4 separate regions of the Homo sapiens genome follow, and regions 2, 3 and 4 are each reported to be linked to region 1. The links are microRNA targets in miRTarBase. Many come from high-throughput screens and were not tested one by one. Region 1 holds a microRNA gene; each other region holds the end of a gene's coding sequence.

The links. The annotated mature microRNA hsa-miR-297 reads AUGUAUGUGUGCAUGUGCAUG and lies in region 1 at 1,536-1,556, opposite strand. An mRNA with a match to its seed (bases 2 to 7 or 8) in the 3' UTR can be bound and repressed. Matches are read on the target gene's strand: a 7mer-m8 pairs with bases 2 to 8, a 7mer-A1 pairs with bases 2 to 7 and ends in A, and an 8mer does both.
Region 2: the mRNA of IGLON5 is a reported target of hsa-miR-297. Seed matches in the 3' UTR shown: 7mer-m8 at 1,895-1,901.
Region 3: the mRNA of TLR5 is a reported target of hsa-miR-297. Seed matches in the 3' UTR shown: 7mer-m8 at 2,020-2,026.
Region 4: the mRNA of KPNA2 is a reported target of hsa-miR-297. Seed matches in the 3' UTR shown: 7mer-m8 at 692-698.

The regions. Positions count from the first base shown.
Region 1 is chr4:110,859,089-110,864,240 of GRCh38, forward strand. It overlaps MIR297 (microRNA 297), which reads right to left and starts at 1,559; the gene lies at 1,494-1,559.
Region 2 is chr19:51,327,918-51,333,069 of GRCh38, forward strand. It overlaps IGLON5 (IgLON family member 5), which reads left to right. Exons shown (of 8, transcript NM_001101372.3): 8 at 754-2,974. The coding sequence ends at 842. VSIG10L (V-set and immunoglobulin domain containing 10 like) reads right to left here. Exons shown (of 10, transcript NM_001163922.3): 10 at 3,624-4,723. The coding sequence ends at 4,694. Among named protein-coding and RNA genes, the nearest start is that of VSIG10L-AS1, 9.5 kb to the right of the region's middle. RefSeq lists an enhancer at 341-1,263.
Region 3 is chr1:223,106,359-223,111,510 of GRCh38, reverse strand. It overlaps TLR5 (toll like receptor 5), which reads left to right. Exons shown (of 6, transcript NM_003268.6): 6 at 1-2,107. The coding sequence ends at 1,056. Among named protein-coding and RNA genes, the nearest start is that of TLR5, 34 kb to the left of the region's middle.
Region 4 is chr17:68,046,049-68,051,200 of GRCh38, forward strand. KPNA2 (karyopherin subunit alpha 2) reads left to right here. Exons shown (of 11, transcript NM_002266.4): 11 at 456-806. The coding sequence ends at 548. Among named protein-coding and RNA genes, the nearest start is that of KPNA2, 13 kb to the left of the region's middle. RefSeq lists a silencer at 2,192-2,392.

The sequences.
Region 1 (5,152 bases):
ATTTATAATTTGTCATAAAGTTGTTATAAGGATGGAATGTGTTATTATTATAAAGAGCTTAGAATAGTTCCTGGCAGAGAGTGATTTTTATTTAAGGGTTAGATATATAGTTAGTATAATCTTTTGGCTACTTTTATTATCAATTGATTATGAGATTGATCAGAAAAGACATTTGGAGATAGAGTGGGGCTGGCAAATGTGATCCCTTTTCCCCTTTTAGACTCTAATTTCTCTTTGCCCCTCTTCTTTTTAATCCTTCAATCTCTCTCTCAGACCTATGACTTGATGCCTGTAGACCCTAGGTAGTGAGATCTGTGTGCCTCTGAGGACTATGATGCAGCACTCCAACAGAAATAGCAGAATTCTGAATAAGTATTCAGTCAGCACGTTACTGTACTAAATGCTTTAGGCAACTGTTACACAATGGCAAGCATTTGTGTATCTAAACATTTCTAAACATATAAAAGGTAAAATATGGTATAAAAGACAAAAAATGGTAAACCTGTATAGGGCACTTACCATGCATGGAGCTTGTAGGACTGGAAGTTGCTCTGGGTGAATCAGTGAGTGAGTGGTGAGTGAAGGTGAAGGCCTAGGACATTACTGTCCACTACTGTGGATTTTATAAACACAGTGAACTAGGCTACACTAAATTAAAAAAAAATCTTCTTTCTTAAATAATAAATTAACTTTAGCTTACCATGGCTTTTTTACTTTATAAACTTGTATTTTTTTACTTTTTGACTCTTTCTGTAATAACATTTAGTTTAAAATATAAACACATTGTATCGCTGTACAAAAATGTTTTCTTTCTTTATATTCTTATTCTATAAGCTTTTTTCTATTTCAAAGATCATATATATATATATATATTTTACTTTTTCAACTTTCTTGTTAAAAACTAAGACAGAAACATACACATAGCCTAGGCCTACACAGGGTCAGGATCATCAGTATCACTGCCTTCCATCTCCACCTCTTGTCCCAGTAGAAGCTCTATTAAGAGTGGAAAACTGGAAATAGTAACACAAATGGAGCTGTAATCTGCTATAACAATGCCTTCTTCTGGATACCTCCTGAAGGACCTGCCTGAGGCTGTTTTATAGTTAACTTTTTTTTTATAAGTTGAGGCAGTATACCCTAAAATAGCAATAAAAGTTTACTATAGTAAATATATAAGCCAGTAACATATTCGTCATTATCAAGTGTTATGTATTGTGGATAATTGTATGTGCTGTAATATTATATGACTGGCAGCACTGTAGGTTTATTTACACCAACATCACCAAAAACGCATGAGTAATGCATTTGCTATTACATTATGATGGCTACGACGCCATTAGGTGATAGGAATTTTTCAGCTCCATTTTCTTCTTATGGGACAACTGTCACATTTGTGGTCTGTCGTTGACTGGAACTTTTTCGTGTGGTTCATGACTATATGATCAATGCAGAAGTTATACCATAGATTAAAAATAGAAATGAAATCTCCTTGATATATGAGTACATAATACATATATATGTATATACACATACATGCACATGCACACATACATACATATGTTCATAAAGTATGTAGAAAGAGATCTTGAGTTGGAAATAAGCCATCGTTCAGGCAGGTGGCCATGGGTTAAAGCTGTGAATTTACAAAATGGGGAAAAGGGAATCAGAGTAAAAAGCTATGCTATTACTCCATATTTAATTTTAATTGTGATGGGTATAGAAGCCCTTTGGCATGAAAGGGAAAATGGTATATATTTTAAATTTTCATGCCAATGATAAATATTTCACATGCATTAAAACCTGTAAAATATATTGTATTTACAGGAGCAAGTCACATTCTAGGGGGAAATTGCCTTTCCTGCAGTTGTATTTTTACATTACCCCAAATACCTGTGAGAACCAATTAGTCTCCACAACTTGCCATGTTCCTGTTAAGTGAACCTGGCACAGGAACATCCAGCTAATCCTTTGGCAGCCTTGTGTGAAGTACTTAGGAAGCCTGGTGTGTCCTTCCTCCAACCTTACAGCATGGGAGCCAACTCTGGCCACTGTTGGCCTGTTATTGTGCAGTGGTGAATTTCTGACACAAAATGAGTTGTGGAGATTACTGAGGAAGGAACGCAAAGTGATTATGTGGTCTCTCTTTTGGGCCTGATCTTTAGACCTTCAGAAAAATTGGCCTCAACCTTACAAAGATATGGACAAGGAAGCCATTCCAAACACGAAGTACTCCATTGTATAAAGTACAAAAATGAGTAATACCATCATTAAGAATAAAATATTCTCAAACAAGAGCCTACTGATTAAGAATGGAAAACTGGGCTGGGCGCAGTGGCTCATGCCTGTAATCCCAGCACTTTGGGAGTCTGAGGTGGGTGGACTGCTTGAGGTCAGGAGTTCAAGAGCAGCCTGATCAACATGGTGAACCCCCGTCTCCACTAAAAATACAAAAATTAGCTGGGCATGGTGGTGGGTGCCTGTAATCCCAGCTACTCTGGAGGCTGAGGCAGGAGAATCACTTAAACCCGGGAGGCAGAGGTTGCAGTGAGCCCCTATCGCACCATTGCACTCCAGGCTGGGCGACAGAGCAAGACTCTGTTTCAAAAAAAAAAAAAAAAAGGGAAAACTGGAAACAAACTGCCTGGCCTGAATCTTGGTTTCTCAGCTTACTAGCTGTGTGACTGGGCAAGTTATGTAACATCTCTGTTCCTTAGTTTCCTTATCTGGAAAATATACCTACCAGATGAGGTTGTTGTGGGATTAGACTAAGATAATGTTGGTCATGCATGTAAGCAGAGCCTGTCACTTACGTAAGTATCAACCAAAAACCTTTCCAAGCAAACAAACAAGGAAACAAAACTTCTGTACAAATCTTATTTTAAAAAGTTATAAAGTTATAGTTATTCTTAATTAATGGTTGAATGAGTAGAATTCAGATCTGTTATTATTTTTAAAGAATGTAGACTTGAAGTGTAGAAAAGGATTATTTTAAAATATAACTTTTCAGTTTTGGTGTTCTGTTTCACAGTAGAGTGACTACAGCAAATGCCAATGTATTGTATATTTCAAGACAGCTAGAAGAGAAGATTTTGAATGTTGCCACCACAAAGAAATGCTAAGTAGTTAAAGTGATAGCTATAATTACTCCAATTTGACCATTATACTATAGATACATGTATTGAAACATTATACCCAATAAATATGTACAGTTATTATATGCCATTATAAATAAAAATAAGTGAAGAGTTCAAAAAAAACCTTTTCAAAGCTTTGAAAATTTTTTCTGAAAGATCGAGTTGATCATTATTTTGAAGAGAAGAAAATGTTTAACATTTTACTCAGTAATTTTATGGACAGTAAACCAAATGGGCAGTCCTTTGGTTCACTTCTCTCTGTGCCCAGAAATACCTGGGTTGCCTTCATATGGCCTCAGGTTGTAGAGTTGTGAGGCACCTGACTGGGGTTGCATGGGATGTGGCAATCCTTATATTTAATATTTCATATTTTTAAGAGAATGAGAGTGGTGCAGGCGGGGTAAAGGGTTCTCTCAAGAAGGATGGGGCAAATACAACTGCTTCTGTCCTAACTGGGAGGAAAAGCAGACTGACAAAGTCAGAAAGCTTTGAGTTTCAGGTCAGCCTTCCCACTGACTCCCATTCAAACCTTGATCAAGTAATTTGACATTTCCTACCTCAGTTTCCTCATCTGTAAAATGGTGATAATAATAGCACTCACCTCAGAAGGCTGTTGTGAGGGTTAAAGAAGATAATGAATGTACAGAACTCAGCATACTGCTTGGCTCATATGGAAGCCCTTAATACATGTTAGCTAATAAATCCTACCTTTGCTCCTTGCTTCAGTGCTGGAAGTGTAGAAGCTGACAACTGGTCCCTTCTTTATTTAGGTTCATCCCTAAATAAAGGAAAAACACCATGTTGAGTAAATTTGGAAGAGACGGTATTCCCTGAGACTAGCAGAAGTCATAGCTATTAAATGTGTAAAACTGACTTTGTTGCATAGAAATCCTTTGATAAGTAACAGATGAAACTGTGATAAATGATATATTAATAAGTAAAAATTCACTTTTATTAGGCTTGCCAGATAAAATACAAGACACTGAGTTATATTTAACTTTTGGATAAGCAATAGCTAATTTTTTTGTTGTAAGTACATCCCAAATGTTGCATGGGATACATGTATGCTAAAATTTATTCATTTTTATCTGAACTTCAGATTTAACTGGGGATCCTATATTTTTATTTGCTAAATTTGGAAACTATAACCTTTAAATATCACTCTTTTCTGATCTGGTATTTTAGTTTTATACTTTTCCTCATAGATTTTTTTTTTCTCATAACTGGTAATTTATCAACATTTCCTGTCACAATAAAGCTAAATTGTACATAAAATATTAACATAACTTGGAACTTTATGAGATGAGAAAATTTATGAGATGTAAATTAAAAGCAACATTAAATAAACTCAAGGATTAATTATATGCATAATAACATACCTTTTCATATTTCTGGTAAACTTGATACAAATCTGATCATAATAGTACAAGCAGTCAGTAATAAACATAAGGAATAAATAAAAATGTAGAAGAAACATGAACTGTTGCTACACATGATAGTTTTGACAGATTAAATGCACAAAACCCCAAAATATAAATTTTTCTAGTTTCACGTTTTCTCTTAGTGTTATTTATATCTTTATTTCTAAAGGTATACTTGTAATATACTTATTAACATTAGTCTATTTAAGAATCTCTATTATTATTTTTGACTTTCAAATAGTATCTGAAATTTACCCTGAGATTTATCTGAGATTTACAAGCAAATCTCAAGGTTAAAAAAAATCATTGAGTTAGGCAGTTTTAGAATTGTTATTTTGAAATCAACATGTTATAATGTTTTAAAGTAGGATATATGTATATACAAACTTACATAAACCTGTATGTCTTCATTTTTATTTGTAAAATCTTTATGATTTTACAGCTTTAAAAGCAATAAAGTACTAATATGATGTATTAATATATTCCCTTGAAAATACAGATTAATCAGGATTCCTGTTCTTAGATGGTTAAATCTTAAGTTTATCTGAAACAAAAGTTTTGAGTCTACAGAAACTTATTGAAAATAGATAATTA
Region 2 (5,152 bases), not on the chromosome of region 1:
GTGGGCGGGGCCGGGGGCGGGGCTAGGGAAGTGGAGACGCCGGGACCGCCCTTCAGGCTGGCCCTGAACTTAGGAGATGGACGCTGAGACTGAAAAGCAATGCGAGTAAGAAACCGATCCACGCAATCAATATTCATTGAGTGCCAGCTAAGGGTTTGTCGTGGGGGACGCAGCTGTGCACAAAAGAAACAAGGTTTGGGGATTCGCAGAGCTTATAGTCTAGTAGGAGTAGAAAAGCAATAAACAAGTGGTCATGTAGGTAAATAAGCAAACACATACATAAACAAAAAATAATTTTGGAGGCCGGGCGTGGTGGCTCACGCCTGTAAATCCCAGCACTTTGGGAGGCCGAGGCGGGCTGATCACCTGAAGTCAGGAATTTGACACCAGCCTGTCCAACATGGTGAAACTATGTCTCTACCAAAAAAAAAAAAAAATACAAAAATTAGCCAGGCGTAGTGATGGGCACCTGTGGTCCTAGCTATTCAGGATGCTGAGGCAAGAGGATTGCTTGAACCTGGGAGGCAGAGGTTACAGTGAGCCGAGATTGCGCCTGGGTGACAGAGCGAGACTCCGTCTCAAAAAAAGAAAAAAAAAAAAAAAAAGAAACAGAGTCAGAAAAGCAGGCACACCCAATGAGAGATCCAGAAAGGACGCTAAAGAGTGGGCTCAGAAGAGATGGGGCCCCTGGAGAGACACACATGGGGTTCCCCACTCTCAGGCCTCCCTCCATGACCCCTTCTCTTCCCCCAGGCCCAGGATCCCTGGAGAACTCAGCCCCGAGGCCCCCAGGGCTCCTGGCCCTCCTCTCCGCCCTGGGCTGGCTGTGGTGGAGAATGTAGGCGCAACCCAGTGGAGCTCACCTCCCCCTGCAGGGGGCCTCAGGCCAAGAGTGAGAGAAACGGGGGAGCAAGAGCCGTGGGTCTCGTGGGGGCAGAAGAGCTCTCGGCCACCAAGGAAGAAGAGAGAGGAGAAGAGGAGGAGGCAGAGGAAGAAAGATCTTCAGAGAACCCATCACTGTGAGGGATAACGCAAAATTATGCATCTTTCTACAGCCATTCTCGCCACCCGTTCACGTTTCCGATTGTGACCCACTCCCGCCACCCCATACCCCTCTCTCTTAGCTCAGGCTGTCAACTGGCTTGTGTGGGTGTGGGTGTGTGAGTGTGAGCCTGCATGCATGTGTAGGTGTCTGTGTCTCTGTTTGTGTGTGTGTGGGGGGGTGGGCTGGGGGAAGGGACTCAGCCGTCCTCCCGCCCCCAAAACCCCCATGTCCACTGTCCCCAACCCTATTGCCTCTCACCTCTGGCTGGAGGTAGGTATGAGGCTCTGCAGTGGAAGCTGTGAAGAGAGGCTTACCAGGCTCCCTGCTTCCCCAATATATGCACGCACACTACCCCTCCCCCTGTCGAAAGGGCAACTCCTGGCAGGTTGGGAGTGGGGAGGGGCATCGCACTCACCTGTCAAGCTGTCATTCAGCCTTTGTGAGTAAGTGGGGGACCTCCATCTAGGCTCTGGGCTTCCCTGCTGTCAACCACCAGCTTCCTGTAGCCAGAGGCCCCATCGCTGGCTCAGTGGCCTGAGACCTTCCCACTTTTCCTGTCCCTCCACACCCTGGATTTTCTGGCCCCCTCCTGGGCCAATCGGTGCTTCCATCCAACTGTCAGACTGGTGGCAGGAGTCACCTGTCTGTTTCAGTGCTTTGCCCTACCCTTGCCACCACTCCCCTTGGCCTTGATTTCCCCACCTGCGGCACCAGCCAGCTGCCCTTGGGGCCTTTGCAGCTGGCCCACAGGTGTGAGCTTGCTGGTCTATCACTTCCTGGCCTCTCCACCAACTGTACCTCCCAAAGGCTACCTGACCGCCCTCACAGACACTCAGACGCACCACACACACATACACACACACAGACACACACACACACACACACACACACACCAGCGACTGTGACCAGCAATAGCCCCCTGGCTCCAGCTGTCCGGTAGCTGGTGACTAGCTGTATTTCCCCCTGGGTAGGCATCTGGTGTCAGGAAGGGACGCTGAGAGGCCGCAGCCTCAGCTCTGACTGTAGGAACACTCCACCCTGGTACACCACACCACACAAAGTGGGGGACAGAGAGGCATCACACAGACATCCTGAGCCCAGACAAAGATGCCATGTCACCAACTCCGACTCCCAGGAGACCCTCTATATAAACACCCACCCCAAACCACACCACCCAGAGTCTGGTGGAGAAAAGGAGAGGGCAAGGCGCAGTGACTGTACCTCAGACGGGGGCATGGGCCCCATCCCACATTGTCTTCCATTCCCAGGGTCCAGGGGATGGGGTGGGACAGGGGAGGGATGCTAGGGAGGGGGTGGGGGGCCCTGGGGGCCATGTGTTCCAATTCATGGGGAGTGTTGAGACCACCACACCAATAAACGCCTTTTTCCAAAGTCTGCCTGCAGGTGTCAATGTCATTAAGGATTAGAGTTAATGAAGGGCAAAGGGTAGCAGTCAATTGGTGGTGCCTCTCCAGCATCATTCCTACCGCCTACTTTCTCACTGGTAGACTTGGAATGGACTCATTACAGAGATGCCCTGTGATTGGCCGAAGACACCCAGCATAGCCCATTTCCCACCGTGATTGGCTCAGAGATGGGCACATGACCCAGTAAGGCTAATGAGAAAGTGAATGGATTCCCAAGAAGAGATGCTTTTCTGCTGGATATTGTGGCTCCGTGATGTGAAGTCAACATCTGTAGGGTTGCTTTTCTCCATCACATGGAGAGATCTTGGCTCTGTGGGGATAGCAATGGTGGGGAGGACAGCATATGGAGCCTGAGAAGGATAGGAACACTGTGAAGGGCAGAGTGGAAACCTTAGAGAAACTGAGTCCATGATTATATATCATTTGAGCAGCTGGATCAAAACTTAACTGATGCCCATTTTCACTTATATAAGCAATAAAGTCCCCTGTATATTTAAACCAATTTGCATTGGATTTTCTATCTCTAGTAATAAAAAAGAGAATGAAAACCATAATAGATACAGAAGAGACATAGAAGGCCCAGAACCCCAACCCTCACCTTTCCAAAAGGATCCAGGGGTTCTATTTTCCAATGGCCTTTTCTACCCCCAATCATTAACCAGAAATTCTCTCACATGCTTTCCTTCCCTGAGACAGATGCTGGTTGCCCACATTTGAGTTGTTTGGTTCCCCTTTCTTCTTCGCTGGCAGATCCACGTGTTATGATACAGGCTAGATATCTGGTTTCCTAGCCTCCTTTGCAGCTATGTGGCCAGTTTGGGCCAAAGAGACATAAATGGAAATTTGCTTGTAGGTTTCCAGGAAAGCTTCCCTCCCACCCCATGAGAGGGAAGAAGGCAGTGATAGAGGGAGGTAGAGGGTGGGGAAGATGTATAGGGAGGAAGTTCTGCCCCCTTCCTTTTATCTTTGGATACAGTTGTGTGAAGATGTGATGACTGGAGCTGCAGCAACCATCTTGCTACGTGAAGCAACATGCTTAGAGTCAATGTGCCAACCCACTGAGGGTGGCAGAGCAGATGGATGCAAAGGGCCCATGTCTTTAATGGCGTTACTGAGCTGCTGAGCCAGCCTGAAACCAGCCGCCTCCATAGTTCTTGCCACCATTTTATTTTGTTACTTGCAGTCAAAAGAATCCTCACCAATGCACTCTCTAAATTCTCAATTAGAAACCCAGCTGAAAAAGCAAGACTTACGCTGAAGACAGCAGCAGCAAGCCCAACTCTTCACTGGCACCAAAACATTTGATCAGTCAACAAATATTTATTGATTGCCTGCTGTGTGTGAGGCTCTGGGTTAAGTGCTGAGTTAATGATGTGGTCTCTGCTTTTGTAAAGCCCTTAGTTTAGAGAGAGAGTCTCAGGCCACACAAGAAATTACATATTTATGTATCAGGAACGGCAAATTCAAGGATTCTGGGACTTAACCCAAGACTAAGGGAGGGGTAAGGGAACGGTCGTCTAAGATGGTAACTGCTACTCTTAGACTTGAGAAATGAATGACATATGGGAAAAAGAAGTGTTATAAGCACAGCAAACTCTAGGGGCAAAATAAATTGTGGCTGAGAGACAGACTGTGATACTGGAGTCCGGGGGCAGAGAAAGAATTGGGAGGGGAGGTCAGGGAGGCCAACAGAGGCCAGACCACAAGGTTTTGAAGGTCACGACGATGAGTTTGGATAATATCTGAAGGGAAATGCACAGGCCGTAGAAGCGTTTAAAGAGAAGAGTGACATGATCTGATCTGTTTTAAGATGAAGATGCTGGGAGCTGGATGGGGTGTGGCCTACAGGTGGCAAAGTGAATGTAAGGGGACCTTTTCAGAGAACATGGCCAAGCTCCCTCTCTAGCTCAGAGCAACACAGCAAGCCCTGCCTGTCTGCTGCAGAGGCTTGGAGGTTGTGCAAACCACACAGTTAGATCAGCAAGAGTTTCCCAGCCAAGAAGTCACATCTCCTTACTTGCACAAATACAGGAAGACTCTTCTTCTGCAGCAAGAGAGGGAGACAGAAAGTCCCACTTTCAGGGTCCAACCCTCAGTCATAGCAGGCCCTGGCTGCTGCTGGAGTGAAATAGGAAGTTCTGGCCCAAAACGCCCTGTGCAGGGCAGACCACTGGCTCTGATCACACCTGTGTGGCTGCGCGAACAGTCTTTGAGCCTCCGCCTACAGAGACAACTGAACTGGGGTCTGTGCCTGGAAGAGAGAGGTGGGGTGAGGGGAGAACTCAGTAGGTACTCTGGATGTGACATAACTCACCCGCCTAACTTTTTCTAGCTCTTGCTTGAACTTTTTAGAGATTATCTGGGAACCCTCCATTTGGAGAGGGGAAAAAAAATGCCTGGCTATCCTTGGTGGAGCGAAGCCAGCCAACAACCCAACCCAGTTGTTATTTTTTATTTATTTATTTATTTATTTATTTTGAGACAGGGTCTCACTCTGTCATCCAGGCTAGAGTACAGTGGCACCGTTAGAGCTCACTGCAGCCTTGACCTCCCAGGCCCAAGCAATCCTCCCACCTCAGCCTCCCTAGTAGCTGGGACTACAGGTACGTGCCACCATGCCCGACTAATTTTAAAATTTTTTGTAGAGATGGGGTATCCCTATGTTGCCCAAGCTGGTATC
Region 3 (5,152 bases), not on the chromosome of region 1:
TATTTGAATCATAACTATCTTAATTCCCTTCCACCAGGAGTATTTAGCCATCTGACTGCATTAAGGGGACTAAGCCTCAACTCCAACAGGCTGACAGTTCTTTCTCACAATGATTTACCTGCTAATTTAGAGATCCTGGACATATCCAGGAACCAGCTCCTAGCTCCTAATCCTGATGTATTTGTATCACTTAGTGTCTTGGATATAACTCATAACAAGTTCATTTGTGAATGTGAACTTAGCACTTTTATCAATTGGCTTAATCACACCAATGTCACTATAGCTGGGCCTCCTGCAGACATATATTGTGTGTACCCTGACTCGTTCTCTGGGGTTTCCCTCTTCTCTCTTTCCACGGAAGGTTGTGATGAAGAGGAAGTCTTAAAGTCCCTAAAGTTCTCCCTTTTCATTGTATGCACTGTCACTCTGACTCTGTTCCTCATGACCATCCTCACAGTCACAAAGTTCCGGGGCTTCTGTTTTATCTGTTATAAGACAGCCCAGAGACTGGTGTTCAAGGACCATCCCCAGGGCACAGAACCTGATATGTACAAATATGATGCCTATTTGTGCTTCAGCAGCAAAGACTTCACATGGGTGCAGAATGCTTTGCTCAAACACCTGGACACTCAATACAGTGACCAAAACAGATTCAACCTGTGCTTTGAAGAAAGAGACTTTGTCCCAGGAGAAAACCGCATTGCCAATATCCAGGATGCCATCTGGAACAGTAGAAAGATCGTTTGTCTTGTGAGCAGACACTTCCTTAGAGATGGCTGGTGCCTTGAAGCCTTCAGTTATGCCCAGGGCAGGTGCTTATCTGACCTTAACAGTGCTCTCATCATGGTGGTGGTTGGGTCCTTGTCCCAGTACCAGTTGATGAAACATCAATCCATCAGAGGCTTTGTACAGAAACAGCAGTATTTGAGGTGGCCTGAGGATCTCCAGGATGTTGGCTGGTTTCTTCATAAACTCTCTCAACAGATACTAAAGAAAGAAAAAGAAAAGAAGAAAGACAATAACATTCCGTTGCAAACTGTAGCAACCATCTCCTAATCAAAGGAGCAATTTCCAACTTATCTCAAGCCACAAATAACTCTTCACTTTGTATTTGCACCAAGTTATCATTTTGGGGTCCTCTCTGGAGGTTTTTTTTTTCTTTTTGCTACTATGAAAACAACATAAATCTCTCAATTTTCGTATCAACACCATGTTCTGTCTCACTAACCTCCAAATGGAAAATAATAGATCTAGAAAATTGCAACTGCCCTTAGAGGTTTCCAGTCTCCATTGATTTTCTTTCAGATCCAATAATACCGTTCTGTCCTGCTGTGTTGATTATGGAATGTATCCTAATCATGGGAAGGGCACCTTGGGAGAAGTTGCAGATGGCTGACGTGCTTTCTCTAGCATTCAGCTAAAAAATGGGATGGTCCATGATTCTGCGTTCTCTGTGTTCTGCAAAACAACATTAAGTAGAAAACAAACAGAAGCAGAGGCACATTTCCTTCTTTTGCCACAGAAACAATGCCACTGTTGAGTGCAAGTCACACTTTGTCTCATAGATAAGAGGTGGCCCCAAAGAAGCTGGGATGAATGAGTCACTACCTGTCTTGTGACTGTACTGCACTTCATGTTCTTACCTTCGGCTTCTCCAGGTCTCGCCCTAGTGAGCCAAGAACTTTCTCTCACATGCTGCCTTTATTTAAGCCTGGCCTTCAAGACCTTCCATGATTTATCACCAACCTACCTTTTCAGCTTTGTTTCCTAGCACACCTCATTGATCAGCTGCTCAGGCTGTTGCATGAAGAACATGGACTTTGCACACAGATCCTGGGTTGAGTTCTGAGTCAGCTGTGTATTAGCCATGTAACCTTGGCCTTGGTATGCCCTTGCTGGACCTACATTTTCTCACGTAACAGCATCTATGTCATAGAATTCCTGTGAAAATTAAATTGGCCAAGGATGTCAGGGCTTCTCAGATCTTTTCCTTCGTTGCCCTAATGACCACAAGAGAACACATACACTGAAGGCCTCCTGGGGGGCAGTTGCAATTTCACTGAAGTTGTATTTTTTTATCTTAAATGAAATCTATGTGTATTTTCCATTCTGTTCTTTTTTTCATGTTTATTAATATAGAAATGTGTTTTTGCAAAAGGATTAAGAATACTTAAAACAAGGAAACTGTGCCAAAATTACCCCATAGCTTCACACACTGCCTCCTCCAAGTCCAGCGTAACTCCAGGTCAGCTCCTGCAGTTTGAGGGGTACACATGGGTCTGGGACTCAGCTCTCCAAACTGTCACCTTCTTCCCCTCACTGGGCCCCTCAATCCTGACTCCTCCAACACACACACGCGCGCACACACACACACACACACACATACACGCTATTCTCATCCCAACTTCTTTTGGCCACTTCTAATCAATGAGACCGAGCTTTCCCTGCACCCAGCGATGGCATTATTTTCACGCACACCATGCAGTCCCCACTGTACCTCTTTCCTCTGGATTCTTCTCCCATCTCTGCACATCCATCCTACGTTTTCTTCGTTTTCTTCAAAATCCAGCCCATGAAGCTCCCTGGGATCCCTAACCCAAAGTCCTCTCTCCCTTTTGTGAAAACTCTTGACACTTTATCTGGTCTTTTAAAAGTAGCACTTACTACTACTTCCTCTATCCTTTTTTCTGAGCCTGCCCGGCTGCCCGCCTCTCTGGAAGATAAGTTCCCTGAGGAAAGACCTTGTCTTCTGTGTCCTGCCCTCACTGGCTGTAGCAGATCACTTATGGTTTGGGGACCATTCAAGGGTTTCCCACTTACACATCTGCCCATGCTTCTTCCTCCCCATGGAATTTCTTCTCCCCATCCTACCACTCGTCTGCCTGATGAATTTCCTTGTTTAGCAAGACTGCCCATCCCTCATGACCCCAGTGACAGATTTTCTGTCACTGATACATGACATTGTGTTGCGCCAGTGTGTTTATGTATGTGTATGGACGGCTTAGTTTGTGAGACACTGCAGTCAGGATCTTGTCTTGTTCATCTGTGTATCGCAGGCCCAGTTTGTGCCTGGCCCACAGTATGTGCTTAGTAAATGTCTTGTGGATGAGTGAAGTATACTGGGAAGCCCAGCCTCCCTCATGGCAACACCTGCTGTTATTAGACTTTCCACTGGAGGGGCAGGGAGGATGAGGGCCTGAGAGAGCAAGATATCCATGGAGGTGCTGAGTGGTAAGCTGAAAAGGGCAGGAGACCACAGGCTGTCAGACACCCCTGAACACTATTTCAAATGGCCAGGCATGGCACAGGCCTCCTGGGTAGTGGGACAGTGGCAGCCTGGATTAGCAGCTAGGAACGGGGCTAGAATGGAGAGCTGAGGGGGTGGGGAGGAAAACAGAACCCACATGAATTTGCAGTGAATAAGGTCTCCTGGAACCCTGTGCTAAGAAATACAGTAAAACAGGGCCAGGCACTGGTGGCTCATGCCTGTAATCCCAGCACTTTGGGAGGCTAAGGTGGGCCAATCACTTGAGGTCAGGAGTTTGAGACCAGCCTGCCCAACATGGTGAAACCCCGTTTCTACTAAAAATACAAAAATTAGCTGGGTGTGGTGGTGCACACCTGTAATCCCAGCTACTAGGGAGGCTGAGGCAGGAGAATTCCTCGAACCCAAGAGGCGGAGATTGCAGTGAGCCAAGATGGCACTACTGCACTCCTGGGTGACAGAGCGAGATCCTAACTCAAAAAAAAAAAAAAAGAAGGAAGGAGACAAAACAAAAGTATACTGTGTCAGTAACAGGTATAACCGCAAATCAGGAAGACTGTGGAAAGACCACTCTGCTCGGTTTCATGCCCTCCTGTCCCACCTGCTGCTCAGCCATGGTTTTCCCCCAGCTCTAGGGGGTGGGAGGGGCACCCAGGACACTGAAGAAATCTCCTGGTCAGAACACCTTGTATGAACAGGACTCCTAGGGAAAGGGGTTTCCTAGTCCGGCTAGGGGTTGGAGGTAGTGCTACACCAGGGACCTCCCTTGGTTTGGGTGACCATCGCTATGACTCTGTTTTCCAAACCAAACCTGGGACATGTAAAATGACAAGTGCAGGTGTCTTTACAGGAAGAACAAGCTGAAACACAGATAACTCTCAACATAGGAAAGGAGTCTATCCCACAGCCTTTTCTAATCTTCTTATTTAAAAACACGAATTACAGGTAATTTTCCTAATGAAACACATTTAAAAGGCATCTTTTGTGGTCTCTGTATAGAGTGTATGGGGGACCTGTTCATGTCTACATCCTAGCCACTGTTAGTTTCAACATACCACTCTATTTCAAAACTTCCCTTTTCTGGCAAAGATCCAAAACTTACTAAAATTCTTTTGTCTTCTTTCCCATGGTCAGGCCCAGCAGTTGGAATTCTTTTTGAGGCCATTTTCCCAAGTCTTTATCACGTCACAAGACTTGCTGTGTACATGGCAAAAGGAAGGCCCAACGGAGCCACATTGGGAAGTGGGCCCTGGGGAGTCTGCTGAGACACTGGTTGCTAAGTGACTGCCCTGTCTTCCATGGCGCAGTGATTCAAAGCCAGGCCTCAGGAAATAGATAAATTCCACATAGCACAGACCTCTGGGGTCACTCCAAAATGGTGAGAAACTACCACAGTTCAATCTCAGAATGGCTAGAGCTTTCTGTAGTTGAAACTGCAACTATTCTGGAAAGATCTAGAATATTGACTAGAGCTGCTGAAAACTTCAAAGAGAATCCCACTCATGCCAAATACAACTGACTCTGAAAATCCCTTGCCAACCACGTGCACTTGCAGTGAAGAATGTTTTAGAGAGTCTTGATATTATGTAAAGCAAATGCGGTTTGAAGTTTTAAATCATGAAAGAACCACGTTAAGAGGACAAGAGACTGTGGAGTAAAAGTTTAAGATAGTTAAATGCTCATGTACCACAATGTAAAATTGATTACAAAAAAGTCTACAATATTAAATCAAGAAATAGTGTTCCAAATATATATATTTAGAAGTATGAAAATGCCAGAAGAAAGAACCATACAAATTAATGATGATTGCCTGAGGAAGTTCTGCCCAGTTCTTCCATTGGGAGCATCTAGAAAAGCTGGAGAAACTATTTTTTTAGAATCTATTTA
Region 4 (5,152 bases), not on the chromosome of region 1:
ACATAATGTACTTATTTGCCCCTCTAGTTTGGCTTGATGGTAATAAAATCTTTTTAAACTGAGATTTTAAAAGCCACCAGATTAGTTTCAAATGAACAACCTTGAGAATCTTAGAATATCTTGAGGGTAAGTTAACGGGTGTCATTGTAGGAGGTGATAGAGAAGTAGGCCAAACTCATCACCATGCTCTGGGCCTAATACAGTCTTTTCCTATTGAAAAGTGACGGTTGGGGAAGAAAAAAATCTCGGCCTGTTTGTGTTACTGTAGTAGCTAGCATTTATGAATTGGCAAAGTTTCAGAGACCCTCCCTCCTCTATGTCAAATACTATAATATCATACAGGATTAAAGGTGTAATATGCAGATCAAGACCTAGAGATTAAATACAGACTTCAGGTAGGCTGCTGCTTGGAATACTTATATCATTTTTATACTTATTTTTTAATATATTTCCAGGAAGAGGAAGATCAAAACGTTGTACCAGAAACTACCTCTGAAGGCTACACTTTCCAAGTTCAGGATGGGGCTCCTGGGACCTTTAACTTTTAGATCATGTAGCTGAGACATAAATTTGTTGTGTACTACGTTTGGTATTTTGTCTTATTGTTTCTCTACTAAGAACTCTTTCTTAAATGTGGTTTGTTACTGTAGCACTTTTTACACTGAAACTATACTTGAACAGTTCCAACTGTACATACATACTGTATGAAGCTTGTCCTCTGACTAGGTTTCTAATTTCTATGTGGAATTTCCTATCTTGCAGCATCCTGTAAATAAACATTCAAGTCCACCCTTTTCTTGACTTCACCATGCCTATGTGTTGCTTTCTAATTTGGGGCCTTTAATGTTGCTAGTGAAAGGTAACCTGTCCAAACTGATGGGATTAACCAGAGGTAGTCCTGGCTGCAGTTTTTGCAGAAGAATGAATAACATTTTCTGGAAACCCTCAGCCAGTGTCTCCTTAAGTCTCCTTGGCCAGGGAGATGGGCTAAACACCGTAAATTTAATCATAAATCTCTGCTGGAGCTACAAATGGAATTCTTTCCTCCCAAACTTCAAGGCCGAATGGGGTTCCAAGGTAAATCACGGCTGCACATGGGCCTCATCTGGGAAAGTACCCAGTTCTGTTTCGTTGATGAGGGGCATGAGGGTCCACCATGTGTCTTTTTTAAAAATGTAATTCCCAAGGGCTCCTGTACAGTGTAGGTTGATAGCCACTACTCTTTGAGATGGTGTCTCGCTCTGTCACCCAGGCGAAACCCTGTCTCTAGTAAAAATACAAAAAATTAGCTGGGATTACAGGCATGGTGGTGGGAGCCTGTAATCCCAGCTACTCAGGAGGCTGAGGCAGGAGAATCGCTTGAACTCCGGAGGCGGAGGTTGCAGTGAGCTGAGATTGCGCCACTGCACTCCAGCCTTGGTGACAAGAGCGAGACTCTTGTCTAAAAAAAAATCCCCTTTGATAATATATCTTTACCTATAACTTTAATTTTTGTATTTGTTTTTGTTGTAAGCAAGGGAGGAAAGGTAATATTCCTAATACCATTTGGCAATTATAGTAAAAACTGCTGACACTTACTTTGCTTGTTGAAATAATCTGAAAAGAGTAACATTAAAAGATGTCAGTGTTAAACATTTCACAAAGTATTCTTTCATTGCTATATTGCATTTTGGCTAAAAATAATCAGGCTACTTGATTATTTTTAGAACAAAGGAAATCAACATTCTGTTTCCTAATGTTGATTTTTTTTTTCTCTCATCAATCTGGCTGCATCATCACTGAAGAAAAAACGGGGTAATTTTTCGTTACTGTAAATCCTTATTGTTAAGATTTTTTATTTCAGCATTTGGCTGCTTTAATTGCATAACAGCAGTAAGAGCAAAGTCAGTTTTGTTCATAGGAGCCATTGGAAACCTTGTCAGATACAGGACCCAAGTTCAGAAGGCCATTAAGGCCTGGCTGCTCCTTACCCCTCTCCACCCTTGCTGGAGCTTGCCAAAACCCAGTGGACTGATTTTGGAAAGCCCTTGAAACGTGTCATTTCACTAATGGTGCTTTCTTTTGGGATTGGGCTGTTGACCTAATTTGTGATGAACAAAACCCGGCCAAATCATGCAGCCTCCCTCTAACTCCCCATGGGAAAGTGTTAGAGAAAAGTGTTTTAGCAACATCACCCATTTAAGTTTCATAACCCCAGCTAATAAAAATGATAAGAAACACCCAAGCTATCAACTAGGGTTTTTTGAGGGCAGAAGTGCAATTTAATTTTGAGCACTTGCATGTTAAATGACATGTTGGCATAGTTTGAAAGCTAATTCTAGTGTCTGAACGCTCAGTTCCTCCTAAATATTTGGGACAGTTTCATAACACTGTGTAGGAGGTGTATGCATCGAACCCTCTTAAACTGATCAGTTCGTGCGTTCCAGGCTTTTCACAATCGTAAATGTCTTTTCCCATCCTAGTTGTGGGAGGTAGCATGGTGCAGTGAAGTGGACTAGTATTTAAGAGCCAGATCTGTCTGAATTCAAATCCTGCCTCTTTATTGTGTCAGTGAAAGACCTTTTGGTGGGGCAGCTAAGTGCTGGCATAAGAAAAGTATAGATACTAATTCCTACATAATAGAAATATCCTAGATGAGTATTACGGCTATTCCAAACTTTTTGTTTTTGGGAATAGCTGTAATAACTGAAGAAACAAAGTTTCGCTGTGTTGCCCAGGCTGGTCTCAAATTCCTGGCCTCAAGCTATCCTCCTGCCTCAGCTTCCCAAAGTGCTGGGATTTGCAGGAATGAGCCACTGCACCTGGCTGCCTCCAACCTTTTAACACCAAAGATTTCTGTTTGTTCTTACATAGACTCTTGTTTTGATATATTTTACCTTCTAGGCTAAGTTGATTATTACTCTTCTTTTTTTTTCCCCCTTATCAGTCAGATACACATAACATAAGATGACCATACTGGATTGTTCATATACTTAATGATGGGATTCTACCGAAAAGTCAGATGTTTTGTCAGCCTTTAGGTCTTTTAGGGGCTTGGCATAGCTTTCTGAACAGTGGAACTGGCTCAAGGAGGGCCCACTGTGACTAAGTTCCTAGACTGGCTGTTAGCCTTTGCAGTATCTCAGTGAGAGGTCCAGCTGTCTTCCTGTGCCCACTGGTTCCCTTTCTCTTAATTCTATTGGACGTAATAATTGGAGCACCTCCTCCCCTAACTTCTCATTGGCCATGAGAACAGGACTGAACCACCCAAGTCCAACTTGGTGATGGAAGCTTGTCAGTATCAATACCTGATAGGCCCCTAATACTAGTGTTAATGAAGTTTCTTTAATGAGCAAACACTTGACTGTTGAGACAGCCACCACAAAGCCATATTTTCTACTATGAAGAAACTCATGTTTAGAACTTGAACAAGTTTAGGCAGAAATATTGGAAGCTTATCCATAAAAACAAGGGAATATGAGGAAAGATTGGATGAATGAGAAAACTTTGAATCAATTCAAAATTAAAATTAATGGTCAAAGGATGATATCCAGAAGGCATCTCCCGATTGTGGCTGCAAAAATACATATTTTAAAAGCAAAACTGTTGAAATAGAGGAGAAATGTAGAAAAACATGTACGAATGAGATGGTCTTTTTCTTTTTTTTTGAGATGGAGTTTTGCTCTCGTTGCCCAGGCTAGAGTGCAATGGTGTGATCTCAGCTCACTGCAACCTCCGCCTCCCAGGTTCAGGAGATTCTCCCGACTCAGCTTCCCGAGTAGCCAGGATTACAGACATGCACCACCACACCAGGCTAATTTTGTATTTTTAGTAGAGATGGGGTTTCTCCATGTTGGTCAGGGTGGTCTCAAACTCCCGACCTCAGGTGATCCGCCTGCCTGGGCCTCCCAAAGTGCTGGGATTACAGACATGAGACACCACGCCTGGCCAAGATGGTCTCTTTCAACCCTTTGTCTTAGACTAAAGTTGTAGGTGACCAATGACTGTCACCCTACTCTGTTCTTGCCCATCCTTTCAACCAACATCTCAGCCACTCAGCAAAGATTAACTTGGGGAACACAAAACTAATTCATTTTCCTTACTTTCTCTCCCTTTCCCTTCCCTTTCCCATCCCTTTCCCTTCCCTTCCCTTTCTTTCTCCCTTCCTTCCTTCTTCTCTTTCTCTCTCTCACTCTTTCTTTTTCTCTCCCTCTCTCCCCTCCCTCCCTCCTTCCTTCTTCTCTTTCTCTCTTTCTTTTTGCTCTCCGTGTCTCCCCTCCCTCCCTCCTTCCTTCTCTTTCTCTCTTTCTTTTTGCTCTCCCTCTCTCCCCTCCCTCCCTCCTTCCTTCTTCTCTTTCTGTCACTCTTTCTTTTTTCTCTCCCTCTCTCCCCTCCCTCCCTCCTTCCTTCCTTCCTTCCTTCCTCTTTCTTTCTTCCTTTTCTTCCTGGTAACTCTTTAAAATGTATTTTCCTAGTTACAGAAATAATACTAATTTTAGAAAGTTTGAAAAACAGAATACCACAAAGATTAAAATAATAACCTAAAATTCTACCTTTGGATTGTATATTTTGGCATGAATAAGAATTCTTAACCTGTGTAACCTGAGATCCAAGATAGGTTATGGGGCTCCTGAACCTCTGAAACTGTATGCACAGTTTACTGTTAAATACATGTGGGTGCTTTTCAAAGAAAGGGGAATATAGCCTGGGGAAAATTAGGCCCTCAAAGGCAGAGCTACCTTCAAAATATTACAAGTTTCAGGTGTAGTTCCTTTCCATTTCTTTTCTTTTTTTGTTTCTTTTGAGATGAAGTCTCACTCTGTTGCCCAGGCTGGAGTGCAGTGGCAAAATCTCGGCTCACTACAACCTCCATCTCCCAGGTTCAAGCAATTCTCCCACCTCAGCCTCCCGAATAGCTGGGATTACAGGCGTGCGCCACCATGACCAGCTAATTTTTGTATTTTTAGTAGGAGACGGAGTTTCACCATGTTGGGCAGGCTGGTCTTGAACTCCTGACCTCAGGTGATCCACCTACCTCAGCCTCCCAAAGTGCTACAGATGTGAGCCAATGCGCCCGGCCTATTTCCTACACTTTTGTAAATGTGCTTTTTTTTTTTTTTTTTTTTTTTTTTTTTGGAGATGGAGTCTCGCTCTGTTGCCCAGGCTGGAGTGC